Homo sapiens: one gene and its partners. The protein of the gene in region 3 binds, or shares a complex with, the protein of the main gene of each other region. Links are inferred from orthologs where the notes say so. Each region holds a gene or a part of one and is shown on either strand. Other genes may lie near its edges.

The links.
Region 1: the proteins of DIAPH1 (region 3) and PPFIA3 are in contact, whole or in part, in a crystal structure (PDB 4UWX), measured with the Mus musculus proteins. The link is inferred for Homo sapiens from one-to-one orthologs. Residues at the interface, in NP_031884.1 of Mus musculus: Lys252, Ser255, Ala256, Ile259, Gln307, Asn310, Ala311, Thr314, Pro315, Ala316, Glu317, Arg322, Gln352, Cys354, Val355, Glu358, Gln359, Glu362; in NP_084017.2 of Mus musculus: Pro719, Arg720, Arg723, Leu724, Arg726, Met727, Ala728, Ala730, Leu731.
Region 2: the proteins of DIAPH1 (region 3) and PFN2 are in contact, whole or in part, in a crystal structure (PDB 2V8F), measured with the Mus musculus proteins. The link is inferred for Homo sapiens from one-to-one orthologs. Residues at the interface, in NP_031884.1 of Mus musculus: Ile635, Pro636, Pro637, Pro638, Pro639, Pro640, Leu641; in NP_062283.1 of Mus musculus: Ala2, Gly3, Trp4, Ser6, Tyr7, Asn10, Ala28, Tyr30, Trp32, Arg108, Met131, Tyr134, Leu135, Ser138, Phe140.
Region 4: the proteins of DIAPH1 (region 3) and CDC42 are in contact, whole or in part, in a crystal structure (PDB 3EG5), measured with the Mus musculus proteins. The link is inferred for Homo sapiens from one-to-one orthologs. Residues at the interface, in NP_031884.1 of Mus musculus: Met90, Asp93, Met94, Asn95, Leu96, Lys100, Pro103, Leu104, Lys107, Ile111, Met115, Gln118, Tyr119, Thr122, Ser133, Tyr139, Ser158, Arg160, Val161, Ser162, Leu163, Pro167, Val168, Val171, Arg210, Lys213, Ala214, Asn217, Asn218; in NP_033991.1 of Mus musculus: Val36, Phe37, Gln61, Glu62, Asp63, Tyr64, Asp65, Arg66, Leu67, Pro69, Leu70, Pro73, Glu95, Lys96, Pro99, Glu100, His103, His104.

What each region holds. Positions count from the first base shown.
Region 1 is NC_000019.10:49,114,677-49,122,573, reverse strand, and holds the start of PPFIA3 (liprin-alpha-3), read right to left. Parts: upstream 3,031-7,897; 5' UTR 2,852-3,030; intron 1-2,851. Other genes in the region: putative uncharacterized protein C19orf73, read left to right, coding at 3,552-3,941; LIN7B (protein lin-7 homolog B), read right to left, coding at 4,201-4,222, 4,556-4,719, 6,102-6,311, 7,243-7,314, 7,607-7,725. UniProt on the Homo sapiens protein: May regulate the disassembly of focal adhesions. May localize receptor-like tyrosine phosphatases type 2A at specific sites on the plasma membrane, possibly regulating their interaction with the extracellular environment and their association with substrates.
Region 2 is NC_000003.12:149,964,404-149,967,925, forward strand, and holds the end of PFN2 (profilin-2), read right to left. Parts: intron 2,184-3,522; coding exon 2,086-2,183; 3' UTR 1,862-2,085; coding exon of another isoform or gene 1,764-1,861; 3' UTR 501-1,763; downstream 1-500. UniProt on the Homo sapiens protein: Binds to actin and affects the structure of the cytoskeleton. At high concentrations, profilin prevents the polymerization of actin, whereas it enhances it at low concentrations. By binding to PIP2, it inhibits the formation of IP3 and DG.
Region 3 is NC_000005.10:141,615,992-141,623,182, reverse strand, and holds the start of DIAPH1 (protein diaphanous homolog 1), read left to right. Parts: upstream 1-4,182; 5' UTR 4,183-4,268; coding exon 4,269-4,385; intron 4,386-4,886; exon of another isoform or gene 4,887-5,138; coding exon of another isoform or gene 5,139-5,189; intron 5,190-7,191. UniProt on the Homo sapiens protein: Actin nucleation and elongation factor required for the assembly of F-actin structures, such as actin cables and stress fibers. Binds to the barbed end of the actin filament and slows down actin polymerization and depolymerization.
Region 4 is NC_000001.11:22,083,709-22,090,738, reverse strand, and holds part of CDC42 (cell division control protein 42 homolog isoform 1 precursor), read right to left. Parts: intron 4,301-7,030; coding exon 4,191-4,300; intron 4,071-4,190; coding exon 3,873-4,070; intron 797-3,872; coding exon of another isoform or gene 707-796; exon of another isoform or gene 1-706. UniProt on the Homo sapiens protein: Plasma membrane-associated small GTPase which cycles between an active GTP-bound and an inactive GDP-bound state. In active state binds to a variety of effector proteins to regulate cellular responses. Involved in epithelial cell polarization processes.

The DNA of each region.
Region 1 (7,897 bases), on a different chromosome or scaffold from region 3:
ATCTTAGAAGTTAGATTGCTCCTGGGAAGAGAATGGAATCTAGAACAACGTGGCTGAAACCTGGAACACACTTGAAATGAACATTTAGCAAAGAAGGAAGGACTTGTTGTTAGAACTTTGGAACATGTCTGAGGATATGGTGGGATCAGAATCTGGCTCAGGGGTCTTATCTAAATATATGAAAAAAACAAAGGCTGTGCACAGTGGCTCACGCCTATAATCCCAGCACTTTGGGAGGCCGAGGCAGGTGATCACCTGAGGTCGGGAACTCGAGACTAGTCTGACCAACATGGAGAAACCCCCATCTCTACTAAAAATACAAAAAATTAGCCGGGCATGGTGGTAGGCGCCTGTAATCCCAGCTACTCAGGAGGCTGAGGCAGGAGAATCGCTTGAACGCGGGAGGCAGAGGTTGTGGTGAGCCAAGATCGCAGCATTGCACTCCAGCCTGAGCAACAAGAGTGAAACTCCGTCTCAAAAAAAAAAAAAAAAAAATTGGCATCTGGCCTAGAACTCAGACCATGCCTGGAATGAAAATGGAACACAGAACAGACATCAGCTGGGAGTGTTCTGGTGTTTAGAAGGAATCTAGAACATGGAGCAATGCAAGAGCACATGTGCGACAAGAAATGTGGCCCGGCCAGGCGCGATGGCCATGCCTGTAATCCCAGCACTTTTGGGAGCCAACAGAGAAGGATCCCTTGAGCCTAGGAGTTTCAGACCAGTCTGGGCAACATGGCGAAACCCCCATCTCTACAAAAAATAAATAAATAAATAAATAAATAAAATTTTTTTTTGAGACAGAGTTTCGCTCTTGTCGTTCAGGCTGGAGTGCAGTGGCACGATCTCAGCTCAATGCAACCTCCGCCTCCGGGGTTCAAACGACTCTCCTGCCTCAGCCTCCTGAGTAGCTGGGATTACAGGCATGTGCCACCACGCCTGGCTAATTTTGTATTTTTAGTAGAGACAGGGTTTCTCCATGTTGGCCAGGCTGGTCTCAAAATCCTGACCTCAGGTGATCCGCCCGCTTCAGCCTCCCAAAGTGCTGGGATTACCGGCATGAGCCACCGCGCCTGGCCAAAAAAATTTTTTTTTAATTAGCCAGGCCTGGTGGTGAGTGCTTGTGGTCCCAGCTACTCAGGCGGCTAAGGTGGGAAGATGACCTGAGCCTAGGAGGTGGAGGCTGCAGTGAGCTGTGATTGTGCCAGTGCACTCCAGCCTGGGCAACAGAGACCTTGTCTCAAAATAAATAAATAAATAAATAGAAAGAAAGAAATTTGTATGGCAGCAGGTAGCTTCTAGATCTCCTTATGAGCCCAGGCCACAGAATACATCTGGAGGAGGTGATGTGTGTTCGGCTCATTGGCCTGGGAGAGTGTACTTGGAGAAGGGGAACTCATCTGAGCCTCAGGGGGCAATGGAGTGCTAGAAACATCTCAACAAGCTGCATCTTAGGGGAAAGAGTAGAGAGTCCTGAAGCCCGCCACCTGGGGTGACATGAGGATGAGACAGGGGTTTGGTAGGGCCACAGGAGATGTGAAGTTGATGGGGCAGAGTGATGAGGCTGTGAAGACCTGGTTCCTAAAAGTGAGACCTGAGAAACTAGATACCTGCTGGGGAGGGCAGTGGACAGAGCTGGGAGCCTGGACTCCTGAATCCTTGTGGAGGTAAATGATGGGGGATTGGAAGGTGAGAGCCTGAGGTCTTGTTTGGAGAGAGGGTTGAGGCAGACAGCCTCAGTAAAAGCTGGTGGGCAGTACGGAAGCTGGGGTCTGAACTCCTGGGTCCCTGAGGGGATAGGAGACTGGGACCAAGACATTTAGGTCCCCAAGTGGGAGTGTGAACAGAAGTCAGAGAACTGCATTGAGAATCACATTCCGGGTCCCCCAAAGGAAAGGAGTCATGGCGCCTGAGTCCCTCGGGGAGCAGATGCTGGGTGCCAGGAGGCTAAGTCTGTGTGTCTGCAGGGCACAGCGGGGTTCTAAGCAGAGCAAACGCTGGGGAACAGGATTCCTAGGTGCTGACGGGGTGAGGGCTACCACCTGGGGCCAGCAGAGGTGTAGACACGGACAGGCTTCCCGAACGGGGTGGGAGCTGCATCCCCGGGTGCCATGGTCCCCACGGCGACCAGAATAGGAAAATTCAGAAGCCCTGGATCCTCAGGGAGCAGCTGGAGTCCCAGGAACCTGGGGTGCCGAGGACGGGGCCACGAGCCTGGCCGGCAGAACCCAGAGGCTGGGGCGCCCTGGTCGGGGAGGGCCCGGGTATTCCCGGGTCAAAGGCGCGGCGGGGGGATCCCCGCGCCGCCTGCGCCCCCTCCCTGGTGGCGGCGGCAGGAGGTGGGGGGAGGCGAGGCTGCCGAGCGCGCTGACCATGGACAGCTCCAGAGCGGGCCTGTGTCCAGGGCGGCCGCCGAGCCTGCCTGGACCGTGGGACGCAGCCGGCTGTGCAAGCCCGAGGCTGGCGACGGGAGACGGAGTGCGCGAAGCGGGGACGATGCGGACGCGTCTGGGGAGTCTGGCACCGCCGCGGCGGGTGTCTGGAGCTCCCAGGACAGGGTCAGGAAGGGGGATCTAGGCTCTAGGAGGGGTCCCGGGGCCGGACCGGGAAATCCAAGCTCCTGGGCCCTGGAGGAGGCGCGAGGCGGCGGTGCGCCCGGGATTCTAGGGTTCGGTCGGGGACTCTGGGCGCCGGGAGGGGCACGCCTGAGTCCCCGGGGTTGGGGTGTGAAATCTGGGCTCGGGGGTCCCCTGGGATGAGGAAGGGAATCCGGGATCTCGGGGAGGCGGGGGAGGCTCGCCAAGGGGTCCCCAGGGTGGGCGCTGCCAGGAGGGCCGGGCCGGGCTCTTACCTGCCTGGTCCGCGGCGGCTGCGGGCGGAGCTGGGCTGCAGGAGGGACGTGGGGTGGAGTGGGGGGGCCGGGCGGGGCCCCTGGCAGCGGCCGGGGCCCGGCTCTGTCGCTTCGGAGCCCTGGAGCCCTGTCTCCGACGCTCGCGCGGGCTCCGCGTCTCTGGCTCCGGCTTGGGCGCTGGGGACCCCCCTCCCCCTCACGCTCTCACTGCCTTCTACCCCCAAAATAGCCCCCTGCCCCTGTCACCGATCAGCCTCCCCCCGCGAGGCCGCAGCCGCCAGATCCAGGGGTGCCCACCAGCGCCCCCCAAATCCCACCTTCCCCCCAAAAAAATTCCTCCTCCCTCCCCCTCCCCCCCCACGGCTCCCGGGCGGTCGTGGCCCCTTTAACAGGAGACTGACAGACGGCGAAGAGCGGCCAATGGGAGAGAGCGTCGGCGCCGGCCGGCGACTAGACCCCGCCTCCACACCGGCCGGGAGGGGTCGCGCGGGCGGAGAGCGAGAGGCGGGGCATAAGGCGCGTCGACCAATAGGCACGCGGCGTGAGGCGGCTGGGGCGGGAGGCGGAGCCCGGCAGGGGGATGATGTCACCTGGAGCGAGTAGCGCGCGGCGTGGAACGCGAGTCGCGACCCCGGCTCCCGGCAGTGGCGCGCACTAGCCCTCGCGCCGCACGGGACACGAGGGCTGGGCGGGCAGCGGGATGAGGCTAAAGGTTGGATTTCAAGGCGGGGGCTGCTTCCGGAAAGACGCGCTGTGTTTGGAAGGTGGAGTGAGCGCCCGGTGGGCGAGGGCACCTCATTCTGCACCCCTGCGCCCGCCTCGGGAACTGCACGCGGCACCCCCACCCGCGACTCCCACGCAGACAGTAGTGCGGCCTGCAGGGTTCCCCCGGCGGACGAGGCTAATGGTTCGCTCCGCCCCGCCCACACAGAGGCCGCCCACTGGCTCCGGCTGCGTTTCAGGACTCTGGAGGAAGGGACTTGGCCTTCGCCCTCAGACGCTCTTAAGGGTAGGCAGCGTTGTCCTCAGTTCTGCCCCAGCACTCAGACCCAGACTGGGTCCCTGCCTCCGCCCTCCGCCCTCGGACTAGTCTCTTGGAAGCCGGCCTGTCTCCGCCTTCAGACCTAGGGAGAGGTCTTAACCTCTGTTCTCAGACTCTGGAAAAGGCTTCTCAACGGCTTGGCCTGACCTCAGCTCCTCGCATTCCCTCCACATCTCAAGACACCAACCCAGGGATGCAGGACAGACACACAGACACTCAGTGAGGGTCAAATATCTTTAAATAAAGTGCCAGGAACAATAAATACTGTACAGGAAGAGAGTGCACGTGAACGTCCAGATCTGTGGTTTCAACCTCGAGACTCCAAGGACCTGCAAGGGGGGTGGACAAGGGACCCGGGATCAGGGAGGCTCCGGGTAGACAAGAGGGGCAGGACTGGGGTTGCAGAGGCAAGGGCCCAGGTAAGTGGGCTGAGGGATCCCAGCCACAGTAGGTTCCGTATCTTGGGATGGAAGGAAGCTAAGGGCTCCCCAGGGGATTTGGCCAAACTAGCCTGGGGTGAGAGCCTGGGCCAAGGGTCAAGGGTCAGGATCCCAGAGGAGGGGCCAGGGCTGGAAGATCCAGGAAGCACTGGCCTGGTTTGGGAGCCTGGGGTTAAAGGGAGCCCGTGGAGGCCCCAGGGGTGTGGTGACCCAGGGGCTCACGAGTAGCTCTGATGCTGTTGGCGCCGGCGGGCAGAGCGCATCTTCTCGAACCGGGCCTCCATCTCCTCCAGCACTCGCGGTGTGTAACGGACAACCAGCTTCACCGAGCCCTGGGCCGCCTTCAGCAGCTCCACCGCCTTCTCATGCTGCTCACCCTCAACGCTCTGCAGGGCCCAACACAGACAGCTGAGCCTGGGGCCCGCTGCCCTCGTCCAGCCCCCACTGGGAGATGGGACCCACTGCTAGTGAGCCTGGTGCCAGCCCTGAGATGTCAATGCCTCATGTCCTCCTCGTGGGAGTCATTAACTCCTGGTTCAGTGTCCTCCTCCAAAACCTCCCAGGATTCCCATGTCAGGGACAGCCCCGTGTTCCCTCAGTCCCTGGCCAAACGTCCAGACCCATCTTTGTGGCCTCCCTGCCCACAGCCCACTAATGTCCGCCCGCCTTGACTCCCTCTTTTTTGTCCCCACAGCCCTGGGCCAGCTCAGGCCTTGTCCTCTTTTCTCTGGACTCTTACCCCAGCCTCCTCCCTGGCCTGGCTTCTAATCTCTCCCCTCAGTTCATCTCCCATAGAGTCCCAGAGTGGTCCTTCTGCACCTGCAAGCTGAGTTTATCCCTGGCTCACCCCTCCCATAGCTCCCCAGCACCCATGGGACAAAGTCCCAGCTTCTCAGGCTGGCACTCAGGTCCTGTATGGCTGACCCCAGCCATCTCTCCAGTTATGCTTCCCTCAACTCTAACCACAGTGAGTTTTGTTTTTTTTTTTTTTTTTTGAGAGGGAGTCTCACTCTGTCACCCACGCTGGAGTGCAGTGGTGCTATCTCAGCTCACTGCAACCTCTGCCTCCCAGGTTCAAGCGATTCTCCTGCCTCACCCTCCCAAGTAGCTGGGATTACAGGTGCCTGCCACCACACCTGGCTAATTTTTGTATTTTTAGTAGAGATGGGATTTCACCATGTTGGCCAGGCTGGTCTTGAACTCCTGACCTCAAGTGATCCACGTGCCTCAGCCTCCCAAAGTGCTGGGATTACAGGTGTGAGCCACCGCACCCAGCCTAACCACAGTGATTTTAATTACCTGCATGCCCCAGACCTCCATCAGAACTAAGCCCTTTCTTTTCAGCTCAGAGGTATGCCAAGTCAGTATCCTTATCTACAGTACCCTCAGCAGGAACACCCTGTACCTTGTTTGCCTGGAGAACTCCTACTCATCCTTTAACACCCAACCCAAATGTTCCTTACTCTGCAAAACCTTCCTGTATCTATGCTGGCCTGGTGCCACATCTGGGCTGTCACAATACTTTGCACTTCCTCATTATTATGTCTCTGGATTAGGACTATTTCAGCCGGGGCCTACTGCCCTCCCCAGAGAGAGAAGGTTGAGTGTAGGGAGCTGAGGCCAACATCTCTCAGAGTCTGTAACATTGCCCAGCACAGGGCTAGCCATACAGACAACACTCAGTGTGTGTTGAGTGAATGTCAAAAGCAGGGGCTATGCTACGTTAGACAGACTGTGTCCCCCAGTCCTGCCTCAGCCCTCCACTCACCACACCGTTCACCGACAACAGTTGATCCCCACGCTTGAGGCCTCCATGGCGGTCAGCCACACCCCCTGGGATGACCCGGGAGATGTAGATGGGCGAGTTTTGCTCTTTGCCACCCATGATGTTGAAGCCTAGGCCCTCATCCGTCTTGGGTAGCTCCACTACCCTGGGATGTGCGTGGCCCTCGCTGGCTGTGAAGGCAGCCACTGTGGCCTGGGAGAGAGAAAGCGACTGAAGATGAGGGCCCCTTCCAGGTAGGCATGAAAGCTGGGGTGGGGGATGTGGACCGAGGACAGCGATTTAGCCTGGGTTACTATCCCCAAGCATGGGACACTTGTCATGGCACAATGCACGATCCCCCTGTAATGACTGTGCGTCTCTTTCTGTTCACTTGCAAGAGAAAGTGTCCATTTGGTGTGTGTCTTGAATACCCCATACTTGCCAATCTTACTTTTTTTTTTTTTTTGAGATGAAGTCTCACTCTGTTGCCCAGGCTGGAGTGCAATGGCATGATCTCGGCTCACTGCAACCTCGGCCTCCTGGGTTCAAGCGATTCTCCTGTCTCAGCCTCCGGAGTTGTAATCCAGCTGGGATTACAGGCACTCGCCACCACGCTCGGCTTTTTCTTTCTTTTTTTTTTTTTTTGTATTTCTGTGGAGACGGGGTTTCACCATGTTGGCCAGGCTGGTCTCGAACTCCTGACCTCAACTGATCCACCTGCCTCGGCCTCCCAAAGTGTTGGGATTACAGGCGTGAGCCACCGTGCCTGGCCTCAATCTTACTTTTAAACAGAGGAAAGCCAGGCCTGGAGGGAGATCTGAGCCTCCGGACAGCAGCAAGAGGTAGCAGCATCTAACTATTGTGCAGTGAGAGGTCAGAGCGCCATGAGTTTCCTGGTTTGCACTGTACAGATGTTGAAGGTTATCTTCTACCAACCATGCCATACTGTTTCCATTTGCAGTTGCTAAAGATGCCTTAGTATGACATTTAAGTTAAAAATGTGCGATTATTTACTAATAGTAAGGTGGCACATAGATTTAGCAAAAATCATGAGGGAGGAAACAGAAATGACTGGCATGAAGGAGATATTGAGTTCGACTAGGCAGTTAAATAGACACCAGGAGCAATGGGGTGCGGGGCCCACCTTGGCTGTGGCATGGGCTCGGATCTCGGCGCTGCCGGTGATGTCCAGCGTGTCATAAAGCTGCTCATACACCTGGGTGAGGAGGCAGCGGCATCAGGGAGTCGCCAGCTCCTCCAGCCCTAGACGCAGGAGTTCAGGCCTCTAGACCCTCTCCCGCTACCACGCAAGGATCCGCCCCGCCCCCGCAACAGAAGGCCGAGAAAACTACAACTCCCGAAGAACCCCTGAGCTGAAGCGTTGGCACCCCAAGGCGGGCCGCCTCGGGAGCTGCCGGGAGGCGTAGTCTCCGGGCTCGGGACAAGCAGGAGGAGGAGGAGGAGGACGACGGCCACCAGCTCGCGCCCCTGCGCCGCGCGCCCCTCACCTCTCGGATAGCGGAGCAGAAGCGGCTCTGCAGAACTCGCTGGAGGGCCTGCAGCTTCTGCGGCGGCAGCTCCCCGCTGCGCTGGAGCCGCTCGAGGAGCTCAACCGCCCGGGACACGTCTGCGGGGCGGGGGCGGGGCGCAGAAACCCCGAGTGTCAGAGACCCCGAGACGCAGAGAAGCAAGGAGAGCGGCGGAGTGAGGCCGAGCGCACAGTCCGGGGAGGACGGCCGAAGCCTAGTCGGACACCCCGCAGAGTCCAGGGTGGCGCAGGAGAGACTGCCACCAGCGGC
Region 2 (3,522 bases), on a different chromosome or scaffold from region 3:
ATGCAAAAGCATCCCAATTATCTTATATGCTGCCTAAGGAATGTCTTCTGCTCTTATGTGGGAGGGCCCCAGCTGGCTGACTTCAGCCTGCCAACACAGCTTCCAAATCTAAAGTCATATGACATTTCAATACAGAAAAATCCACAATAGTGCAGAAACCCTTCTTGGTACTCCCTTTACTATTAGATTTCACATCTAGAAACCAGCAAGAAGAGGAAAATACTTATTTTCTAGCAGATAAGTCAGTTGCTTCTCACATACTCCTGAAGATGAGCCTGAAATGACTAAAAGCTATGTGTAACAGATCAGAGTCCATTAAAAAGAAATTCCCAGGCACTAATTTTATCTGTAATATTACTTGAAGTAGGCCATCACCTAATATTGCTGAAGTTTTATGCTTGCAGCAGACTTTGGCCTATTCTGTGTATTCCCACTTTGTCAAAAATCAACTTTTAACAGTTTATATAAACAATGTATATAAACAACAGGAGCCTAGAGTATTTGGTTGGAATAAATTTATTTCATCTGTCTGTAAACAAGGTGTTTAATAGTTATGGCATTTTTTTAAATGCATATTAAATCAGATGAGTTAGACTGTATCCCAGATGTAACAAAGTGCAGGGAAAGAAATGGACAAATCAGCAACAAGATTTGTTTTTAAATCTGTACATTATCCACAAGGCCCAAACAATAGAAGCAAATACTAGAATGTCCCTAAAGTAGTGCCATTCGAAAGAAACCCTTAATAGGTCAGTTAAAATCCATCTCACAATAGCAACAGTTCATTTTAACAATAGTATGGCACAGAATACATATGAAAAAAATTCATCACAAGACAGCCAAGTCCACAATAATGCAACTTCATATAAAAACTCAAGCTGCAAATAAAAATTGGTCCTATGAAGAACAAACTGGACACACTCCAGATGGTTATGTTGGGATACCTAATGTCCATAATGGCAGCCTTTTACAATTTTACTAAAGAGTAGAGCTGGTGTGCAAAGAAAAAGGAAGAAAAATCTGAGCTATTGCAATGATGGAATGTCCCTGGGGATTCAATCAGTATGGTTACTGTAAGGTCATGGGAGGAAGTGCTTTTTGCTCTTGTTTTGCCATTGCACTCTTCATATGTCCTGTAGACACTATGAATAAAGGTTTGTCTCTGCTCAAGTGCAACAACAATACTAAAAGCAAACTACTGCAGCTCTCAATAGCTCATCAACAAAAGGGATTTTAATTGGTTAAAAAAAAACAGGCACTGCATAAAAAAAGATGGAAGCAAACCAAATGCCTATGTGCGAAGGGAGGGGGGGCGGGAAAAAGAGAAGAGTGAAGGAATGATGCATGCACTTTTTCCTCCCAACCATGCGCTACAAAAGGAAGACTAAATGAGCCAAGTAAATGCTCAAAGTGCTGAAAAGACACTGATCAGAGATTGTACAACCGGCACCTTGCTTAATATTAACTTATTTTAGTAATCAATATCCCATTAATTGCTAAGACAAAGTGATGCCCAACTTGGCATGCCCCCTCCCCCCAATTTCAAGGTATCATGCAAATCATTATTGTGCTGCAATTATGTTGCCAGATAAGGGTTGGTTACATACAGTGGTTAACATACAAATGATCCATTGGGCAAACAGGAATCATGACATTAGAAAATAGGTAAAGAAAAATTAGCTACCATCTACAGTTTGGTAGCATTGTGACCATAATTAGGGTTGTTGATGAAGACAGTTGCTAGGTAGATGGGGAGAGGCTGCTTACACATCAGACCTCCTCAGGTATAAAGCGAGTTCATATGCTTTCTTGTTAAGTGTGCCTCCGTGGACACCTTCCTTTCCCATGACTATAACCAATGCTGGAGTACACAAGGAAACAAAACAAAAGTGAACAGAATTATTTTGGGGGGGGAGGGCAGAAAGAAAGACACCTTTCCCCACCAACAGAGGGATACAAAGGAGACACAGGTTCATACCCCATCACCCTGCATTGCTAATAAAATTTCCAGAATTAAGACTTAAGCTTATAGCTAGGAAAGTTTAAGAGCAATTTTCCCCTAATACTTAACAGTCTGCCTAGCAGCTAGAACCCAGAGTCTCTCAAGTATTTTGCCATTGAGTATGCCTTCTTATTCAATCCGCCTCCATGGACCCCTTCTTTTCCCATTACAAAGACCAAGACTGAAAGAGAAAGAAGAAAAGTGTTTCAAAAGAAGTGTTAATCAAGAAAGTCACATAAGTTTTAGCAGACAGAACCCGGATTAATAAGTTAACATTAAGTTAGTTTTCCATGAACTGCCAAGCACTGAAGTCAAGTAGGTTTCCAAAAAGAACTTTCAAACTAGTAATATACTAAACAGAAAATAGTAAACTTGACTGCATCTTGGAAGCCAATCAATGCAAGCAAAAGTTCTATACAACTATCTTTACACTAGCTACAGAAAAAAAAAAAAGTGACCATTTGTCTTCTATTTTAGGGCAAAAAAATTCTGGCTGATGTCAAGTACATGTTATTACTTGCCCCCAAAATATAAACTTAATAAACCTGGGGAGTTACTTACTTACAAACTCTCCCCAAATTTTAACATGCTTGATAAGTTTAAACTATTAAGTTTTACCAGTGAGGCTAAATGTATCTATTATTTCCAGAGGAAAATGAAGATCAAATTTTAAGTAGCATACTCAGTATCATTCAGAAAAGGCCAAATTAAATTATTTAAGGTGTTTGCTTACTGATAACTTCACCGTAGTAGCCTTGTTTTTAATTGCGTCTAAAAAAATAGGTTTACGATTTCTAATTGCTCTTCTATGATGCAATTCAAAGGTGTATAACCCAAAATATATGTATATGTCAAATTTTATATTCACTACCACTAGATGTCAGTAGTGCTGTATCGTATAAAATATTCTGGTTTTTTGTCTTGTGTTTGACGCTTCTTTTCAGCGTATAGTGCAGCTAAGGTTTAAAGAGATTTGTCACTATTTCAAAGTCATCTAATTTTCTTATAAATCCTTATAAACATCAACTCACACCAGAATACGAGTAACTTTTAGGATAATCACAGGGAGCTGGTAGAGCCATAGCATTAATTATAACTCACAGCAGCTTCAACTCCCCTCACATGGTAGAGCTGTTATTAAAATTAGATGTGCCAAGTCAGCTATGTGAGGCTACAGAAGCACTCTCTATTTACAAAATATTCGTATGCGTTAACACATTAAAATGTATTTGTAAATCAATTAGATGTCATAATAAAACTCAATTTCAAAAGTTTATTTTGAAAAAGTAGGGAGACTTCTTTAGTGCAATTAAGAGTTTCTATAATGCTGACAACAGTCTGGAGACACCTGAATTTCTGGACCAAGTATACAAACTAAATGTAATTTCCTACTTTTCAAATCTAAGTCTCAGACACAATCTTTGAAAATATTTCAGTGAATGGACAACTTACTCCAAAATCCTCATCTAATTATCTTTTCCCCAGCAAAGTTCCTAACTGAAAAATGAACGGATGTTAAT
Region 3 (7,191 bases):
AACACGGGAGGAATCTAAGGCTCAGAGAGTCTAAGTAACTTTCTTTCTTTCTTTTTTTTGAGACGGAGTTTCGCTCTTTTTGCCCAGGCTGGAGTGCAATGGCATGATCTCAGCTCACCACAACCTCTGCCTCCCGGGTTCAAGCGATTCTCCTGCCTTAGCCTCCCAAGTAGCTGGATTACAGGCATGAGCCTCCACGCCTGGCTAATTTTTTTTGTATTTTTAGAAGAGATGGGGTTTCTCCATGTTAGTCAGGCTGGTCTCGAACTCCTGACCTCAGGTGATCTGCCTGCCTCGGCCTCCCAAAGTGCTAGGATTACAGGCTACAGGTGTGAGCCACCGCCCCCGGCGAGACTTAAGTAACTTTCTGAAGGTCACATGGCTAGTTAAAGATCAGGGCTGAGATTCAACCTGATTCTCTGACTCCACACCTTTAACCCTGTGCACTTAGAAGTAACTGAGACATTGCTCACCATGCAGATAAGGCCTTTCCTGGCTTAGTGCCTCAGCTTCTCTTTGATGACTTTCTCAATTCTCTGTGTCCCAGAGAATACTTTTTCTTTTCTTTCTTTTTTTTTTTTGAGATGGAGTCTCACTCTGTTGCCAGGCTGGAGTGCAGTGGCTAATCCCGGCTCACTGCAACCTCCGCCTCCCAGGTTCAAGCGATTCTCCTGCCTCAGCCTCCTCAGTAGCTGAGATTACAGGCATGTGCCACCACACCCGGCTAACTTTAGTATTTTTAGTAGAGACGGGGTTTCACCATGTTGGCCAGGATGGTCTTGATCTCTTGACCTTGTGATCCACCTGCCTTGGCCTCCCAAAGTGCTGGGATTACAGGTGTGAGCTACCACGCCCGGCTTTTGAGAATACTTTTTCAAAAAGAAAGAAACCAATATTGAGTACCTGTTGGGCCCTGTTTTGCTTTCACATCCATTCTTTCACTATGGGTTTATAATACCACGTCACTCTTCTTAAAATTAAAACTCTCCTTTACCTTGCACTTAGAAGAAAATCCAAAATTTTGACTGTGGCTTAAAAAGGTCCTGCATGCTAGCCCTTACCTACATCCAGGATCTCATCTCTAACTACTCTCCTCCATGCACAGTGCTCCCGGCTGTCCTGGCCTCCTTGTTCTTACTGGAATACATCAGTCTCTTTCCATTTCATGACCTCTGTAGTTGGTTTTCTTGCAGCTTGGAATGGCCTTCCTGAAGTCTTTGCCTGCTTAGCTCCTCCTCAGACTTTAGGTCTTATGTCCCAATAGTCCTGTCTGAAATTTCACCCTTTTCCTCTCATCACCTTCAGTCCTATCACTTCATTTTATTAATTGTACTCTCCATCATCTGAAATTATTATATTTATTTACTTTGTTAGTTACTAGTCTCATTTATTAGGTAAGCTTTTTGAGGATAGACAACCTTGTCCAGCTTGTTACTCTACTGTATTGCTAAGGTTTATGACAGTGTCTGTATAGAGTAGTTCCTTAATGTTTATTTGATACGTGAATGGGTGAATGAATAGCAGTCTCTACCAACAAGAGGAGGAGTGGTTCTCAACGGGGCCTGAGAAATGGCTTTGGAAAAGGGTGCTGGGAGAAGATTAGAACTTAGAGTGAGATCCTGACCTCTCTCCCCTTGCTTTGCAGGCCAGAGGCACCCAATGAGTTCTATGATGGAGACCATGACAATGACAAGGAAAGCGATGTGGAGATTTAAGAGTGGCTTGGGATGCTGTGTCCCAAGGAATTTCTTTTCACCTCTTGGTTGGGCTGGAGGGAAAAGGAGTGGCTCCTAGAGTCCTGGGGGTCACCCCAGGGCTTTTGCTGACTCTGGGAAAGAGTCTGGAGACCACATTTGGTTCTCGAACCATCTACCTGCTTTTCCTCTCTCTCCCAAGGCCTGACAATGGTACCTATTAGGGATGAGATACAGACAAGGATAGCTATCTGGGACATTATTGGCAGTGGGCCCTGGAGGCCAGTCCCTAGCCCCCCTTGCCCCTTATTTCTTCCCTGCTTCCCTCGAACCCAGAGATTTTTGAGGGATGAACGGGTAGACAAGGACTGAGATTGCCTCTGACTTCCTCCTCCCCTGGGTTCTGACTTCTTCCTCCCCTTGCTTCCAGGGAAGATGAAGAGAGAGAGATTTGGAAGGGGCTCTGGCTCCCTAACACCTGAATCCCAGATGATGGGAAGTATGTTTTCAAGTGTGGGGAGGATATGAAAATGTTCTGTTCTCACTTTTGGCTTTATGTCCATTTTACCACTGTTTTTATCCAATAAACTAAGTCGGTATTTTTTGTACCTTTCGCCTTTCTAGGAATGTTAATTCTTGCTAGTTTCCTATTTATGAAAGGAGAGGGAAATGGGCATGATGATGCATGTAATAAAAGCATAGTTAACATTCATTCAGCACTTATCCTACGTTAGGCCCTGTGTATGTATTCTACATTTATTATTGTAAATATAAGAAGTTAATAGAGGATTTTGGTTAAGAGTTAGACAAACCTGGGCAGATTTGAGAGGAGTAGAAGATGACTTCAGGTTTTTGAATCTGGGTGTTTAGAGTAGTGATGCTAGTTGGTGAAGATACACTGAGATAAAACATGTTAAGTGCTTAGCACAGTGCCTGACAGAAGAAGTTGCCCATTATCTGTCTATGTGAAGAACAATGCTAAATACTGTAGTAGCCACAAACATGAACCTTTCTCTAGAAGAGTTTACATTCCAGTCAGTAGTATGATAAATATTGTAGCAGATACAGACTGATACAAGAAAGAGGACTGATAGATGGGTCACTTCCTCCCCTCCATTCTCTGATTCTGTCTGTTCTCAACACTAGCTTAGAAAGTAGCTTTTGGACTTTTTAGACAAAATGTCTGGAAAGCTCAGCACTAAGTCAAGTTTGAAGTATGGGATGGACAGCTCTATGTAACATTCTATCCGATCACCATCAGAAGGTCTGGACCACAAGAGAGATGAATGCCAAATTTAGGAGCCAGCCAGCTTGGCAGAGTCCCTGGTATATCTCAGGCCCTTGACTAGGTACTGGGGCTCTAGAGTAAGTAAGTCACTGACTCTGCCCTTCAGGAACTTATGCTTGAAATCTTGCTAGCTGTGGTCAAGAATATTCAGTCCATATTGTGAAGGCCGACTGGTAGCCACGTAACTGTCACACAAGGGACAGATGTAGCTGGGAGAATGGATGAAATTGCTTAGGGAGAAAGTCATGCTAGAAGAGCAAAGAATATACTCTTGGAGAATACTCATTCTTTTCACTCATGTTTGGTTTATGTCAGTGGGGAATCCTGGTTAAACATAGGGTTTGGCAGCAAATCAGACTAAGCTGGGTTTAAATTTTATATCAATTATGCGTTCTTGGGCAAGTCACTTCAACTCTCAAAAGTCCAAATTTACTATTTATAAAATGGTGAGGCTAGCAGAATCTATCACATGGGACTGTGGGGACTTAGAAAAATACATGTAGAGTGTTTGCCTAGTGCCTAGCAGAGAGCAAAGGGCATGGTTAAGTGGTAACTGTTATTGCTGTTTAGGCACATGTTGGCAATAATTAGTTTGTCCTGATTAGAAACAATTAGATGGTACCTAACCTGGAATTCGAACTAGGAAATTAAACTCCAGAGCGAGTCTGGTTTAGTCTAGTGCTTGCCCTGGACCGAGCTCTGTTCTTGCTACCTTGCTTTCAAAACATGGTGGCTATCACTATAATTTTTTTCATGTGTTCCATGGGTATTGCACACATTGAAAACTGCATTCTCTTGGAAAACCTGTCACTAATTTTCTGCCAGGATAATGGTCTCACGCGATTTTTGGTCTGGGATGTGAGAGGGTCCAGGCTGTCAGGCTGTACAGCCACGTGGGCGCTGCGTGGGAGCCAGAGGCCTGCGCTGCTCCAACCGCCAGGGGGCGGTGCTCTCCGCCGCGGCCGCGGAGAGCTGCACCGCCCACTCACCACCCCCCCCCACGTGGGTCCGAATGGTTAGGTCCGCTGGGCAGGTAGCGCGCTTCCGCGGCTTCCCTCCGCCCCTCTCCCTTCCCCCATTGGTAGGGGCTGCGGGTCCGGGCGGAAGTGGGGCAGGCGGGCGGGAGCGAGGCGTCGTCGTTGTATATTCATGAGGCGCGCGCAGCCCGGCATGCTAATGAGGCGGGGCGCGGCGGCTGGCTAAAGAGCGACTGGGCGGCGGCGGGCGCGGAGCTGCCAGGCGGGAGCGGCGTAGGCGCGGGGTCGCCGGCCAGCGTGAACCGGGACATGGAGCCGCCCGGCGGGAGCCTGGGGCCCGGCCGCGGGACCCGGGACAAGAAGAAGGGCCGGAGCCCAGATGAGCTGCCCTCGGCGGGCGGCGACGGCGGCAAATCTAAGAAATTTGTGAGTGTCCCTCCCATCCCGCTCCTGCCTGGCCCCGTAACCGCCCTCTGGACCCCTGCAGCCGGCCCCTGGGGCGCCTGCCCGGCTTTGGGGAGCCGCCCCCGCGCCTTCCTTCCTCGTTTCGCTCGGTCCGCAGCTCTGCAGCCCGACATCCTCTCCCTTCGGGACCTCGGGAAGCCCCGGAATCCCACCCGGCTCTTGCCCCGGCCACCTCGGGGCTTCCCTCGTTCCCCAGCCCTTACATTCTGCCCTCCCGCCCGCATATCCCCGGCCGGCTCTCAGCCCCGTCTCTCCCCTCTCAGCCTCACTTCCTTTCTTCTTCCTCCAGTACCCGAACACGCCTCCTCTTTTTTGGTCCCCTCTTCTGGGTCCATTTTCTCTTCTTAACCTTACACCTTTTTTGGTATTCTCGTATTTCCTTCTCCTAAAGGTCACTTCCTTCTCCATGATTCATCCTTTTTACCTGCTAACTTTCCTCCCGCCCAGTCCCCCGTGGGCCCTCCGCCCGGTGTCACTTGATAATCCTTCCCCTGAGGAATGTTACCTGACTTGAGCCCTACCCCCAACTCCTTCTTTGGACGTTTGTCCTTGCGATTACAGGAATGGGCTCCTGCCCAGGTCCTATGGTCACTGGGGCATGACGTTTATTTGTTTACCAGTATTCCTCTCTCCAGAGAACCTCTCTCTTTGCCCTGTTGCTTATCACTTTTCAGAGGATTAGAACTCTCATGATTGTGCCCTTCTTGACCTAGGATGGTGATAAACCTCTCCTGTGGGAAGAAAGTTGGACTGCGAGTTCAAGAAGTTTGTAATTGAATTGTTTTTTATACATTTCCCATGATAACCGTCTCCTCTACTCCTTTTCTACTGCCTCTTGTGCCCCAAGGCGACTATCGGCTTCCCTTTGCGTGCCTGTAGAAGAGTAAGCTTTCCTCAAGTGCCAGTTACTTTCAATCCGAGTGAAGGAATAGTGATATACATGTAACCCTATCATATTTCATTACCTTTTGCCCACACCAACGCCTCTCTCCAGGGAGCCGTTTGGTTGCTTTTTTGCTATAAAAGCTTTGTAAGATACGGGGCACTGTCCAGGAGAGGAAAAGTCTTGGATATTGATGATCATTATAATAGCTAGTTATAACTGTAGCTCTTTTGTCTTCTCTTCCAGGTATTTATGCCCTTACACTAGTGTATCTTTCTACTAAACAAATGGCTTGTAACTCTTAGTCCCACCTCCCAACATTTTGACCCAGCTCCACAAATTTGGGAAGAAAACTGATAAAGCGATGGAAACAGGAAGAAAATGTTGTTTTATGACCTAGAGGGTTGAGATGTTAACCCTGGAGGGTTAGATGTTTAATTCTAAATAGAATTAAAATAGTGACTCATCTCTTCCTATTTCTAGCAAGACCAAGTGCTCCTGGACTGCCCTTTCCAGTGATATCTGAGATGTCAGTAACCATCTGTTTTTATCTGGTGAACATCTTTTTTTCCCCCCCTAGAAATATAAGGTTAAGGGTATTGACACCCCCTCCTTCTTTGGTGACTAAAGCAGCATTTTTGTATGTTTCTTTAGGATAAGAATTGACCCCTCCCCCCCGTTAGCTTTCCTTCCAAAACTTAAGTTCTAGGGCTCATATTCCTTCTATTTCTGTATCTTTTTGTTTTGATTTTATTTCCATGAGTACTGTTTGACCTTCCTCACCCAAATTCCAGCTATTGCTGCTGACTTGTGGTGACCTCAGTGACTTGTTTTCATGTCTTGAGTAGAATTTTATATGTACTCTATTTTATCTAACAATTATTTCACGAACTTGTGAAGTCTACTATGTGTGTGGTACTGTAAGGTGAGAAACCTGAGGAAGCTCAACCCCTTTTCACCTGTCTTTTGGAATGTCCATGAAGTCTTCTATATGTTTAATGGATTTGGCTCAGGGTTGTAGGTATTTGCTTTAGAGAGGATGGAGCTGAACCAAGTTCTCTTTTCTTTCTGCGGTGTTAGTCTTAACCCTTAATCTGCTGAATTTTTAAAACTAAATAGCTCAGGTAATGAGGAAAATTGCATTAGTAGCTACGGAATTGGAAGGTTTCTAGGAAAGTAGTGCTGCTTAACCCTTTTATTGCCAAATGTAACCTATCTCAAGGCATCAGAATATTCTTTCTTCCTCTTGCTCCTTTTATGAGAACTCTGTGGAAATGAGAGATGAGGAGGAGCATTGCAATCCACTTCTCTTTGTGTCTGTGTATGTATACGTGGGTGGGTGGAGTGGGCGAGATTGCTGGTGTGCTTTTGATACCCGTGGCTTAGTTTTCTTGAACTATAGGCTAAAACTGAACTCAAAGGTCTTTCGCCGCCTCCACCTTTTCTAGAGTATGTGTCCTCTGGAACTCCATTAAGAATGTACTGTATAAAACTGCACTGGTTTGGACTAAGTGTGCCCGAAGGTTGTTTGCATTTGAGGGTTTATAATTCCTTTAGCTGCTACATACCTTTCCTGGCTTATGCAGGTTCTAAATACGGATTAACTGGTGAGAACACAGAGCTCACAAATTGTCTGAGATCTGCTCTTACCCTCTGAGGCATCTTGTGTGGAAAGGAGATGGACCCTCAGTTTAAAAGTGGTTGGGCATCATCTTTTAAAAACACATGATTGTTAGACGTGCTGACAGTGAGTGGCTGAAGCCAGGCTGCCTGGTATTACCCCTTGGTTCTTCATGAGTCTGTCTTCTCCTGGGCCATGAGCATACCCCTTCTCCGGCATTATTCCATTTCCTTTCACAAGTCCTTAAGATGAAGGAAAATAAA
Region 4 (7,030 bases), on a different chromosome or scaffold from region 3:
AATAAAATCAGAAGCAGGAAAATATAAAGGTGGCAGCTTTACATCTCAGCATTAACAAACTGTAAGTCAACTGTTTAAATGGATGTTATTCTTAAAAGATAATGTAACAAATGAACTCATAAAGCAGTAGCAGATACATCAATATCTTCCCCACCCCAGACTGACAAATACTCCACTACAGCACAGACAGCCAAAGCAACAGCAACACAAAGTTTCACCGCACAAAGGAAAACCAGAAAAGAATCCTCCCTTCCCCATTACACTCTACTAGGTCACCCCTTTTCCATAAGGTTTGTCATGCAATTACAATTAACAATTGATCATAAGAGTAAAATGATGTTTGTGTTACTTTCTCCATCTAGAACTAAGATCTAGAAGTGTTAAAACTCTTGTTATTTTCTCCAAGAGGACATTCTTAAAGCCAGACCAAGTTCCCTTTTGCAATAGTAATCCAAACCAAAAAGCTCTGAGCATCAGGCAACTCAAGCAGCAGAACGTTAAAACAAGTCCAACTTGACTACTGATCACAAAAAATTTATATGATATTGCATTCTTGATCAAAAACTAATACAGAGGTTGCTCTAAGGTGGTGAGTAAAAAGACGCAGAGGCTTTCAAACAGGATGGTTTTATTCCTTTGTTTTTAAACGATCTTTCTACAGTAGTGGGACAGGAAGCAGCAGCAAAGAAGGGAAGGAGAAAACAGTTTAGAATATACAGCACTTCCTTTTGGGTTGAGTTTCCGGAGGCTCGAGGGCAGCTAGGATAGCCTCATCAAACACATTCTTCAGACCTCTCTACAAGACAGAGGGGAGGAGAGAGAATAGCAGCCAGGTTAGAGGATTAGAAAGACTAGCAGGTACAACAGCAGTCCGGATTAAATGAGCTGAATTCACAGAAGCAATGTGCCTTAAGAAAAACGCTAGAATGCTAGATCTTAAGCCCATTATAACCAGGAGAGTAGATAACTGACCAAAAACTTCACCTCAAGCAAGGTTAACTGAGCAGGAAAGCAATTTTTATTAAAATGCAATATGTTGACTTCTAACACATTTTGGAAATAAATCTATTACAATTTCAGGCTTATGTGAATTCAGCCCCTGAATAACTGAAGGACACAAATAGCAGACTAACAGGCATGCTATGTGTTTCTAGGTTCAATGACATATCTGAATGTGATTAATCAAGATTTCAGAGTAAACTGGTTTCCCAGAACGGAAAGGTTCAGACATTTAAAAAGTGTTAATTGTGCAACAGTACCAACTAGAAGGACTTTAAAGAACAGACTCTAAAAACAGCATACACTTCAGTTATTCAGCAATGTTATTAGAGCAAGTAACCACCACCCAAGTCATAAGAAAACAAAGAATGGGGTCCTAGAATGAGTTTTAGCAAGCAGTCCAGTGCTTTAAGATGTCTGCATGGGTATCAGAGCATAAAGCATGGAGTGAAAACGAAGAATATTCTCAGATCTTACGGGGATTAAGATACAGAAATACACTTACACCTCAGCCAGAAACTCCAACATGACAGTGTGACTCAGCATTGGTGGTACTTAGGACCCAGGTCTACAGACTCACCTAAAATCACCTAAATCTGAAGCCACAAGTTTACCACCCAAGGTTGTTTCACATGTTCTTTAGTTTGATCAGTTTGATCCCAAGTAAATATGTCCTAAAAGTCCCAGAACACAGCTCCAATTGTAAGTGCCAACCCCAGACCACCCCAAGTGTTCCCACCTCCACCCTGCCCCCATCCATGACATCCCACAGGACTGGTACCCACATGTCACATTAGACACAAAATAAATCAGAAACAGCAGTAAATTCTTTAAAAGCAGCAAAAGTTAAAAAGCCTTCCTCTTTCTACATCATTTACAAAGTAGAAATGCCACATAAAAGTTAAAATTCCACTGCAATTCTTTCTGCACATCTAGGAACCAACTCTGGCAGTAAAATATAAAAGGAAGGAAGGAGTACAGAAAGGGAAATATACTTTATAAGGAAAAAAAGAGGAGGAGGACTATTAGAAACTGGAGTGTATCCCTTAACAAGAAGGAATTCCTTTCTTGCTTACCATGGACGAAGATCAACAAATGCTCTATGAAACAAAACTAATCTTTGCTTGACCACCATCTGTTTATATTAAGACTTTAGTTTTAGAGGAATCAACAAACAGAATCTGTAAGCCTCAAAGTTCTAGCTCCCAAACACAACCACAGACCCCATTTTCTAACTTCCCCTCTTTTGACTTCTCCATACTTCAAACTCTGGTAAGAAAAATGTACCTGCTAAGACCTTTTAAACTTCATACTCTCTACAAACGGATTTACTATATACACCTGTTGATACTGTAAAAATCTTACATTAAAAGCATCCAATTATCTAAAGCATCACTAGTAACCTAAAAGTGAATCCACAGGGCCTATGTGTCTTCCCTCAAAGCAACCCATATCTAGAGAACAGAGGTATGCATCAGAAGCACACAGAATTAGTGTCTAACATGGACATGAGTGTTTCACACATGACTTTCCCTTGTCTCCCCCAATATACACACACAGGCACACTTTTCTGGGAATGTTACTAAAACACACAGAGAAGCACCAGGCATTTTTTAAAACTCTCAAAACAGTTGCTATGCATGAGAAGGTGTAAAATCTTCTAAACTTTTAAATAACTGCTTCTATAATAGCACTAAACTGCCCAAAAAAACGAGGATTAGAAGATTATGTTTAAATCATCTGATACTAGGCCTCGAAGTTATTTTGAGGGATATCCCAGTTAAGCATAAAAGTTTTATCTGTAAATATCCAACCAAGTACTAAACTTACTATTAAATTATGCACTAGGCCCTATAAACTAAATACCTAGTGCATATGTAATAAGTAATCATATATGCCATTTACCCTAGTATACACGTAGTTAAGAATCCAATAGTGTTTTTTAGAAACACAATAAAAATGAATGAATTACCTGAAAACATAAGCATAAATATAATGAGTTTAATATAATTATTAGAAACCTCCACCCTTCAATCTTGCCCTATTAGGCATGTCTGCTCAGTGTTCAAACTTCAAAGCACCAGTACCAGTAGAACATAAAACTTTTGTGCTAATTATTTCCATAACCTTTTCCTTTGCCCCCAGAACAGTACTCAAAGGACGGAATCAGCGATATCATGAAGGTGAAAAAGTTTAAACCATACACATCAGTTACAAGTCCCATTCCAAATACCCTAACATTGCTCCCTATCTTCAAAATCTGAGTTTCCCATCAAACTACAAAAGGAGTTCCAATTAAATCACTCAAAAACGGCCGGAATGCATGAGGAAGGAATACTTCCAAAAATATAGGAATAGGGACACTATATAAAGCACGCTTGAGAACTGTGGCAGAAATAGCCATGGCTGCCTTCTTTGACATTAAAGTCTCAATTATTATGACTAATTCCCTATCCTGGTTGAATTGCCCAAGAAACAGTATAGTATCAATTGTCAGAATTGGCAAGAAAAGATCAGACATATTCAGATGAAAATTTAAGTGTTTAGAAAAAAAAAAAATCATTCACATCGTCTCTTGCAAGTTTATGCTTATCTGAACCTTTCCTGTAAGGTTTTTGTTTTAACACAACCCTGACCACTACGAATCATTCAGTACAATACGAGAGCTTACCAACACAAGGGGTTTAGGAACTAATAATATTCTCCAAAAAACACAGAGGCCTCTAACAAAAGAACATACAATATGAAGCTGTTCATATTCTTGCTGGGCATCTTTGAGCACTGCTGATCACTGTTAGAAATAACTCCTGTATCCTAATGCTCTAATAAATGACTCGACCATAAATACACATGGGGTTTCATGCCATTCTTACCTGTGTAAGTGCAGAACACTCCACATACTTGACAGCCTTCAGGTCACGGGCCAGCTTTTCAGCAGTCTCTGGAGTGATAGGCTTCTGTTTGTTCTTGGCAAGTTTCTCAATAGTAGAGGGGTCATCTCTGAGATCAATTTGAGTCCCAACAAGCAAGAAAGGAGTCTTTGGACAGTGGTGAGTTATCTCAGGCACCCACTAAAAAAAGGTATTTTAAAATACACCTTTGTTAATCAACAAGCCTCTAATGCTATTTATAACAGGTCAGTAGAAATTCTGAGATGATCTTCTTAGGGCAAGAGTATCTGATCAGCTTACCTTTTCTTTCACGTTTTCAAATGAAGATGGAGAGACCACTGAAAAACAGACTAGAAATACATCTGTTTGTGGATAACTCAGCGGTCGTAATCTGTCATAATCCTCTTGCCCTAGAAAAAAGAAAAATATTGGAGAGAATTCAGCAACTGAATCTTGGTGTCCTCAAAGTGTTAAAAGCATGCTGGTCATTACTCAAAAAGCAACTTACTTATCTAATAAAATGTATGGCTTTGTAATATAATATGTGGGCAATATTCTCAATCAGCTAATTCTACAAACTTCAAGCACTCAGAACAGCAATGAATTTACTATTATGTTATTTGCTTTTATTACCAGTTTGTGGTGTTCAATCTTTGTGTCCATTAGAAACCCAATAATAAATGTAATAATAAACTCTTGCTACAGAAATGGTTAAAAATCAATCCTTGTAATCCCAGCACTTTGGGAGGCCGAGACAGGCGGATCACCTGAGGTCAGGAGTTCAAGACCAGCCTGGCCAACATGATGAAGCCTCATCTCTACTAAAAATATAAAAATTAGCCGGGTGTGGTGGTGCACATCTGTAATCCCAGCTACTTGGAAGGCTGAGGCAGAAGAATCACGTGAACCCAGAAGGCGGAGGTTGCAGTGAGCCGAGATGGCATCACTGTACTCCAGTCTGGGTGACAGAGTGAGACTCCATCTCAGATATGGTAAAGAAACAATCACAGTGAAATCATCTAAGGAAAGAAAAACCTCACTGAAACCCAGATGACAAAATCCACTGCCCATCATGACTACAAACAGAGGTTCACATATTTAGTTAATGCGTGTATATAAGACCGGTATCTGAAACTGATAAAGCCTAGAAAACAAATTTAGCAAGAATTAATCGATACTCAAAATAATAAAAATACTTAGAATTAACTTAATCAGAGGCAAAAGACTTGGATAACAAAAAAATTCAAAACTGCTGAAAGAAATTAAAGAAGACATAAATAAATGGAAACACATCCCACATTCATGAACTGGAAGACTTAATATTGTTGACATGTCAACATTATCCAAAGCAACCTACAGACTCAATGCAATCCCTATCAAAATCCCAACAAGGGATAGTAATCTTGAAACAAGGGACAATAGACAAAATAATCTTGAAAAAGAATAAAGCTGAAGCACTCCCATTTCCTGATTTCAAAACTTACTACAAGGCTACAATAATCAAAACAGTGCGGTATTGGCATAGGGAGATATATAAGACAATGGAATAGACTAGAGAACCCAGAAATAAACCCTTACATATGTGGGCAAATGATTTTTCTTTTTTTTTTTTTTTTTTAGACAGAGTCTCACTCTATCACCCAGGCTGGAGTGCAGTGGCACAATCTCGGCTCACTGCAACCTCCACCTCCCCAGTTCAAGAGACTCTCCTGCCTCCACCTTCTGAGTAGCTGGGACTATAGGCACACACCACCGCACCAGGCTAATTTTTGTATTTTTAGTAGACACAGGGTTTCACCATGTTGGCCAGGCTGGTCTTAAACTTCTGACCTCAGGTGATCTGCCCACCTCAGCCTCCCAAAGTGCTAAGATTACAGGTGTGAGCCACCGTGCCTAGCCTAGCTCAAATAATTTTTGATAAGGGTGCCAAGACCATTCAGTGGTAAAAGGACTCTTCAATAAATGGTGCTGAGAAAATGACATATTCACAAGCAAAAGACAAAGATGAAACCTTACCTAATACTATATACTAAAATTAACTCAAAATGGATAAAAGGTCTAAATGTTAGACCTAAAACTTTAAAACTCCCAGAAAACATAGGGCAAAAGATTCAGGTGGACTTGGCAATAATTTGTTTGGATATCACACCAAACCACCAAAAAATAGACAAACTTCATGAAGCTGTGAAAATTTTATACATCAGAAAATAGTATCAACAGAATAAAAACGCAACCCACAAAATAGGAAAAAATATATGCAAATCGTGTATGTGATAAGAGATTAATACCCGGAATCTACAAAGAACTCCTAAAACTTACCCCAAAAAAAAAATCCCAATTCAAAAATGGGCAAAGAACTTGATTAAACAGACCTTTCTCCAAAGATATATAAATGGCCATAAGATGCTCAACATCACTAATCATTAAGGAAATACAAATCAAAACCACAATTAGATACCACCTCACACTAATTAGGATGGCTACAATTAAAAAAAAAAAAAAAAAAAAAAAAACAGGAAATAAGTGTCGAACAGAAGAATGTGACTATATCAAACCCCACGTACTGTTGGTAGGAATATAAAATGGGACAGCCACTGTGGAAAACAATACGGAGGTTCCTCAAAAAAATTAAAAACATGATCCAACAATTCCACTTCTGGGTATATACCCCAAAAGAACTGAAAGCAGGGTGTCAACAAGGTATCTGTATACCCATGTTGATAGCAACATTATTCAAAATAGCTAAAACGTGGAAGCAATTCATAGCACCAGTATTAAAACTGGAACCCAAACATCCATCAACTTGTTAATGGATAAACAAAACTGTGATATATTCATAGAACAGAATAACACTCGGCAATCAAAAGAAACAACTACCAATACACACAACATGGACAACTCTCACAAACATTATGCTATGTAAAAATAGTCACACAAAAGACTACATATTGTATGGTTCCATTTATATGAAACCCTAGAAAAGCAAAACAGTAGAAACAAAGAAAGCAGATCAGTGGTTGCCTGGAACCAGGTCAAGGGACAGGGCTGACTGCAAAGGGAACCCAGAAATAAACACTCACATATATGGTCAAATAATTTTTGATAAGGGTGCCAACACCATTCAGTGGTAAAAGAACTCA